2 linked regions of the Homo sapiens genome follow. The protein of the gene in region 1 purifies or fractionates together with the protein of each later gene. This does not show direct contact. Each region holds a gene or a part of one and is shown on either strand. Other genes may lie near its edges. The genes, in order: RAB37 and ESPN.

What was found.
Region 2: the proteins of RAB37 (region 1) and ESPN purify together in Homo sapiens (affinity purification with mass spectrometry; one large-scale study listed by BioGRID and IntAct). This does not show direct contact.

The regions. Positions count from the first base shown.
Region 1 is NC_000017.11:74,740,223-74,744,033, forward strand, and holds part of RAB37 (ras-related protein Rab-37), read left to right. Parts: intron 1-545; coding exon 546-656; intron 657-2,031; coding exon 2,032-2,073; intron 2,074-2,906; coding exon 2,907-2,973; intron 2,974-3,065; coding exon 3,066-3,118; intron 3,119-3,811. UniProt on the Homo sapiens protein: The small GTPases Rab are key regulators of intracellular membrane trafficking, from the formation of transport vesicles to their fusion with membranes.
Region 2 is NC_000001.11:6,455,758-6,458,902, reverse strand, and holds part of ESPN (espin), read right to left. Parts: coding exon of another isoform or gene 2,706-3,145; exon of another isoform or gene 2,232-2,705; intron 1,720-2,231; coding exon 1,640-1,719; intron 1,543-1,639; coding exon 1,531-1,542; intron 1-1,530. UniProt on the Homo sapiens protein: Multifunctional actin-bundling protein. Plays a major role in regulating the organization, dimension, dynamics and signaling capacities of the actin filament-rich microvilli in the mechanosensory and chemosensory cells.

The sequences.
Region 1 (3,811 bases):
CCAAACAATATTCATTATAGAGTATGCAAATGACCATGCCCCACCCCCAGCAGATTCTGATAGACTCCCTTGGGTGGGAATCCTTGTCCAATATATTGACACTTCCCTTTCCTGTCAGTATAGCCCAGCCCATGCGTGTACTCACGAGCGGACGATGGATGACACAAGTACACAGAGGGACGGAATCCCTGCATGGTGTGGCTATGGGCAAATGTGGCCACTGTCTAGATTGTGCAAATGTGGTGGTTCTCTGGGGCCACAGAGCACACTTGGGGACCTGTTCATGGTGAGGTCTCAACTCCGGCCTCTAGGAACTTGAATGAGGACAGGAGGGTCAGAGGGAGAGCCTAGGAGGCTGAGCCAAGGAGCGTGGAGAGGAGAGACAGGGTGAAGATGGCGGCTGGCTTTCTGGAAGCAGGTGGCCTTTGGTGCGGTCAGCATTCGTGCCAGCCCCCTCTTCTCTGATCCTCTCCATGTGTCTCTCTCCTGGAATCCCAGAAGCTGCCCCTGACTCCCCATTAACTGCCTCTGCCCCTACCCCCTAGGTGATGCTTCTGGGAGACACAGGCGTCGGCAAAACATGTTTCCTGATCCAATTCAAAGACGGGGCCTTCCTGTCCGGAACCTTCATAGCCACCGTCGGCATAGACTTCAGGGTGAGGTGGCTGCAGGCACTTGCTTCCAGCAGAGAGCCAGGGCTGTGGCTCAGGCATGGGGGGGTTGCCCCCACCTTGCTCACCCTGGCTCCCAGGGACTCCCGAGGCTCATGCCTGGAGGGCACACAACCCGCTCCCCCAAGACCACAGAGGTGGCCGGGTCAAAGGAGACTGGGCAAGGTTGGCTCCTTGCCCAACTATAGGATGCAAAAAAATGAGACTGAGTCTTCGATTCCAGCTCCATTCCTGGGGGACTTCTCCCAAGCAGAGCAGCCGCAGGCACGGCATAAGCTGAATATCTTGGCCCACAGAGCCCCTGCTCATTGCTCTCCTACCTGGGCCCCTTTGGAAAGGCCTCAAAGGTCAATCAGTCTTTCTGGAGTTCCCAGAAAGCACAGCCCTGCACTGGGTTTAAGAGCTGGGCTTGGGCCGGGCATGGTGGCTCTTGCCTGTATTCCCAGCACTTTGGGAGGCCGAAGCGGTCAGATCACAAGGTCAGGAGTTTGAGACCAGCCTGGCCAACATGGTGAAACCCCGTCTCTACTAAAAATACAAAAATTAGCCAGGTGTAGTGGCACGCTCCTGCAGTCCCAGCTACTCGGGAGGCTGAGGCAGGAGAATCGCTCAAATCCGGGTGGTGGAGGTTGCAGTGAGCTGAGATCGCGCCACTGCACTCCAGCCTGGGCAACAAAGTGAGACTGCGTCTCAGAAAAAAAAAAAAAAAAGAGCTGGGCTGGCCATGTTGGGAGACAGCAGCTCACCAGGGACCCTCCCTCTCACCTTGACGACTCCATCTTACAAATCTGCATCAGGGATGCTAGACGCTGCACACCTGAAGTGTTCAATAGAGAAAAGGTCTCACCCTGGCAGGTGGGGCTCTACAGCTTCAAGCAGGCAGAAAGCGAACACTTCCTTCACTAGAGAATTAGTGGGCAGCTAAAGAAAAGGTGCTGCTGCAGATGTAGCCTCAGGTCCCCAGGATGCAGGCAAACACCCCATCTCCAGGGGCTCGGTCACAGTCCCAAGGCTAGGCTCCAGGAGAGGGAGACCGAAGTGGGAAAAGGGCAGGGCCTCCAGCAGCAACCAGCCCTCCAGCCCTGGGCTGCCTGATCCCTGGAGAGAGCCAGGATGTTTCTCAGGCTCCTCTTGCCCTGCTGTTGTGAGAAGGCAGTTACAGTCCTCAGAAGGGACGACTCCACAGTGGAGGTGTCTGGGTATGGGGTTCCTGCTGCCCTGATGGTATGATCTGGCTGGAGACGGTTCTGGGGCTCACTGCACCCACTCTAGGCCTGGAGAGGGAACAAGACAGGACGTCTGCAGAGCTGAGGAGCCACATGACTCCTGCCCTCCCATCCTCTGCCTTTTTCTCTTTCAGAACAAGGTGGTGACTGTGGATGGCGTGAGAGTGAAGCTGCAGGTGAGACCAGAGGCTGGAGTTGGGGAGGGAGGATGGAGGACCTGCCCTTCCTTCTCACCCTGAACCACAGGAGGCCTGCAGCCCTGCCCTCCGCCTGGGGCAATTTCCTGTGGGGCCCACGGGAGGAAATGGCTTTTGTTTATTTGACATCTGCAGAAAAAGCAGTTCCCAGGCACCCTCTCATCTATGAACAGCAGCTCCAAATGCCTTCAGACAAGCTTAGCCTCCATCCATCTCCTCCCCAGTTGCCAGGGCTTTATCTGCTCTTAGGAGATTGGACATCCCCAACCCCTGAGCTAGGGGAGAGGAGAAGATTCTTTTTTTTTCTTTTCTTTTCTTTTTTTTTTTGAGATGGAGTCTCGCTCTGTCGCCCAGGCTGGAGTGCAGTGGCACAATCTCGGCTCACTGCAACCTCTGCCTCCCAGGTTTAAGAGATTCTCCTGCCTCAGCCTCCTGAGTAGCTGAGACTACAGGTGCATGCCACCACACCTGGCTAATTTTTTGTATTTTTAGTAGAGACGGGGTTTCACTGTGTTAGCCAGGATGGTCTGGATCTCCTGACCTCGTGATCCGCCTGCCTCGGCCTCCCAAAGTGCTGGGATTACAGGTGTAAGCCACCGCGCTCGGCTGAGGAGATGATTTTGAACGAGCTTGAGAAATCAGTAACTGCTACTGTCCAGGTCATTGGATGCTCAGGGGCTCATGAGAACCTAAAGAAGAAAACAGCCCCACCTTCCCACAGATATCTCATACAACAAAGCAGGCCTGCTCCACCCAGCACATTCCTTGCACCTGCCTCCTTCTGACCATTTCTCCATCCCATCCCTTCCCAGATCTGGGACACCGCTGGGCAGGAACGGTTCCGAAGCGTCACCCATGCTTATTACAGAGATGCTCAGGGTGAGTCCCTCGCACCCTCCAACCCCTACCCCAGCCCCTTGGTAGCATCCGTGCTGCTGCCTAAGTCCCCTCTGTGATCCTCTCCCCTCCAGCCTTGCTTCTGCTGTATGACATCACCAACAAATCTTCTTTCGACAACATCAGGGTAGGTCCTCCCTTCCCCTGACTCCCACCCATAAGCAGCCAAGGCAAGGTCTATGCAGGCTGGGGTTGCTTCCTGCCCTGTGGAAAGCGGGTGGAGCGTGGAGTCCTCCTGCCTTCTGAAAAACACCTACTTGTGACTCAGAAGTCATATCTGCTGCTTTGTATTTGGTGGCCATGTGGGCATGAAGGCCAAGCAGGCTGTTGTGACCCTGTGCCACCTGCATAGCCCTCACTGTGATTCACGAGTGTGTTTCGTGACAAAGTGTTCAGAACAGCCCCCACTCCACCCTGGATAATTATCCACAGAGACCAAGGGAAAAACACAACCAGAAAAGTCCACACATACATCCAGGGCAAGTTGCAAGAAAGTGACTCAGTCAGACAGAGTGAGTGGTTGTATCCTCACAACCAAACTATTATAGAGACAAAAATTTGATAAATTCAAGCACCAATTTTGTTCACGACATTGTATAGGTTTCATGAATCCCCTGACCTCAAGGACAGTTTGCTGATAAGCAAACTAGGAGAATAAAACGTTTATATAGAAAGAGGAAAATCCATGGCACTCATACTCCTACCTCCAACCCCATGCTCATGGCAGACATCACTAATCAATCACAGTACTTTTGATCACTGAAACCCTTATGTGGTCTTAGAATCTTTAACAGGACACTCCAAGAAATCACTGCTGACA
Region 2 (3,145 bases), on another chromosome or scaffold:
AGAGTACAAAACGGCGTGATCCTGGCTCACTGCAACCTCCGCCTTCCAGATTCAAGTGATTCTGCTGCCTCAGCCTCCCGAGTAGCTGGGATTACAGGCATGCGCCATCACGACCACCTAATTTTTATATTTTTAGTAGAGACAGGGTTTCACCATGTTGGCCAGGCTGGTCTTGAACTCCTGACCTCAGGTGATCCACCCGCTTCAGCCTCCCAAAGTGCTGGGATTACAGGTATGAGCCACTGCGCCCAGCCCCCTGCAGCTAATTAAAAAAAATTTTTTTTGCAGGCCTGGTGCGAAGGCTTACGCCTGTGATCCCAGCACTTTGGGAGGCTGAGGCGGGTGGATCACCTGAGGTCAGGAGTTCGAGACCAGCCTGACCAACATGGCAAAACCCGGCCTCTACTAAAAATACAAAAATTAGCCGGGCGTGGTGGCGGGCGCCTGTAATCCCAACTACCAGGGAGGCTGAGGCAGGAGAATCACTTGAACCCAGGAGGTAGAGGTTGCAGTGAGCCAAGATTGTGCCACTGTACTCCAGCCTGGACAACAAGAGCAAAACTCTGTCTCAAAAAAAAAGAAAAAAGCCAGACTTGGTGGCTCATGCCTATAATCCCAGCACTTTGGGAGGCCGAGGCGGGTGGATCGCTTCAGGTCAGGAGTTTGAGACCAGCTTGGCCAACATGGTGAAACCCCATCTCTACTAAAAATACAAAATTAGCTGGGTGTGGTGGCACACGCTTGTAATCCCAGCTACTTGGGAGGCTGAGGCAGGAGAATCACTTGAACCCAGGAGGCAGAGGTTGCATGAGCCCAGATCGCCACTGCACTCCAGATTGGGTGACAAGAGTGAAACCCCATCTCAAAAAAAAATTTTTTTTTTTTTTTTTTTTTCGCAGAATGAGGTCTCACTGCATTGCCCAGGCTGGTCTCAGACTTCTGGGCTCAAGTGGTCCCCCTGCCTTGGCCTCTCAAAGTGCTGGGATTACATGTGTAAACCACCATGCCTGGCCAAAGACTTACTTTTACAAGAGGAGTATAAAACATCTCATTAATAATTTTCATAATTGATTATGTGTTGAAATAATATTTTTGATATTTTGTGCCAAATAAAACAGTACTAAAATGAAGCTCACCTATATCCTTCTACATTTTCACTGTGGCTACTAGAAAATTTTAAATTACATCTGTGGCTCTCATTACATTTCTATTGGCCAGCACTGGGCTGGGTGAGATGACTAGGGGCAGAAAGTACATTCTGAGGGCCAGACAATCAAGGTGATTGATAGTGGGGTTAGGTTAACTGAAGGGTAGAAAAGGCCAGGTTAATAGGAGGCAGGGACTGAGTAACCGGGAACAAAGTTATTAGAGCATGAGAGAGAGATTCTGGGGTATTATAGGGAGGAAGGAGGCTGTGCTACAAGGGCCAAGAGACAGGAGGATGTACTCAAATTGGCCTGGATGAAGGGACGACCCTCTGCGACTTGGGTGGGGATAAGGGTGGCAGGTTGGGGCCAGCCCTGCACTCACCGCTTCTGCTCCCTGGAAGGAAAAAGAGACAGTGTCACTTGGTACCTCCACCTCAGGGACGCAGTCAAGACACCCTGCCAGGCCAGCCTCTGCCTGACCCCCAGCTCACCTCTCTTCTTCCAGCTTCTTCCGCAGGAGGTCCCGCCTCCAGGCGGGCATGCTGGCCAGCCGGGCCTCCTCCTCCTCCTCCTGAAACACAACCACAAAGCTTCAGGGCCTGCAGGGGCTGGGAGATAGGGGGCACCCTCAACCTCGGGACCTGAAGGAGTCAGGGTCACAGGAAGACATCCTTTTGATGCACATCTGTGTGACAAGTGGATGGAGGTGCCTGGTCACACCCCCTCAGAGCTGGCCTCCTTTCCCCTAGTAACCCAGACCCTCATGTCCTACAGGAGGCACCAGAGAGATCAGAGCTGAATGGGACAGAAGCAGAGAACAAGTAGCTGGGACCCAGAGGTCCTGAGCCTGATTCCCCGCAGAGGCAGGTGGCCAATGGCCACAGGCCCAAGACCTCTGGGCAGACGCAGATGCCAGCCAGCCCCCACCCAGCCTCTTGGCTCAGGGAGACTCAGGCTGCCCCTGGCTCCCCTGTGAAGGACCTTCACCCCATGGTTGCCATCTTCCCAATAGAGTGGATACGGGCACTACAATCGTGGGGCTACAATGACATCAGGGGCAGGTGTGGTGTCCAACGCAGGCAGTTTACAGCAAAGAGTTTTATTTCCTGAATGTTACAGAGGAGAACGGGTCTGTACACGGCACACTTCACACAGAACACTGCACACGTGGCACCCTTGACCTCAGCCAAGGAGGTAGCTGTGAACTCCAGTGGAAAACCAAAGAGCAGGCCACACTGCCGCAAGGAGGAGCCGCAGCCCCTCACTCAGAGGGGCTTCTTCTGCTGCCTGGCTCCACACAGAGCTCAGCAAGGCCACGGGGCCAGAGGCGGACACCTGGTCTGTTCTGTGCCTGCCCTGCCTATCCGACCAACGCCCCACAGCCCGCCACGATGGGACCTCAGAGGCTGAGGCAGCCTGGTCCTGGGCCCTCCGGGCTGCTCAAGGCCACAGTCCTGGGCTCTTCCTGCTGCTTCCAGCCTCTGGAGGGCGTCAGACAGGCGTCCAGGCCCACGTTAAGACGCTCGAGGGTGAACTGAGAATTCCGAATTCCGCTGCTCAGATGTCAAACAGCTCTGCCTCCTTCTCTTTCCAGAAGGAGAAGCTGCGGTCGATGTAGCGGCAGATGTCCTCGTTGCTGAACTCGCCCATCTCAGACACCAGTTCCAAGGGGTCTTCGGCGGGGGCTTCGGAACCAGGAGAGTCTGAGGTCGGGGGAGGCGCGGCGGGCGGGGGCGGCGGCGGCGGCTGCGGCGCAGGGGCCAGGGCCTCGGGCTGCCCCTCAGGCGGGTCCCCCGTCTGAAATGGAGCAGCCTCTTCGGTCCGCTCCTGTTCTTTCCCCTCCTCTTCCTTTTCCTTCGCCTGTTCTTCGGGGGCCGGCTCAGCCTCCAGGCCGTTTCCGAAGAACCGGTGCCTGAGGTCCTCGAAGCCGTCGCTCCAGCCGCGCCGGCCGGCCTCCACCTCCTCCAGCACCACGCGGTGGAAGAGGCGGATGCGCT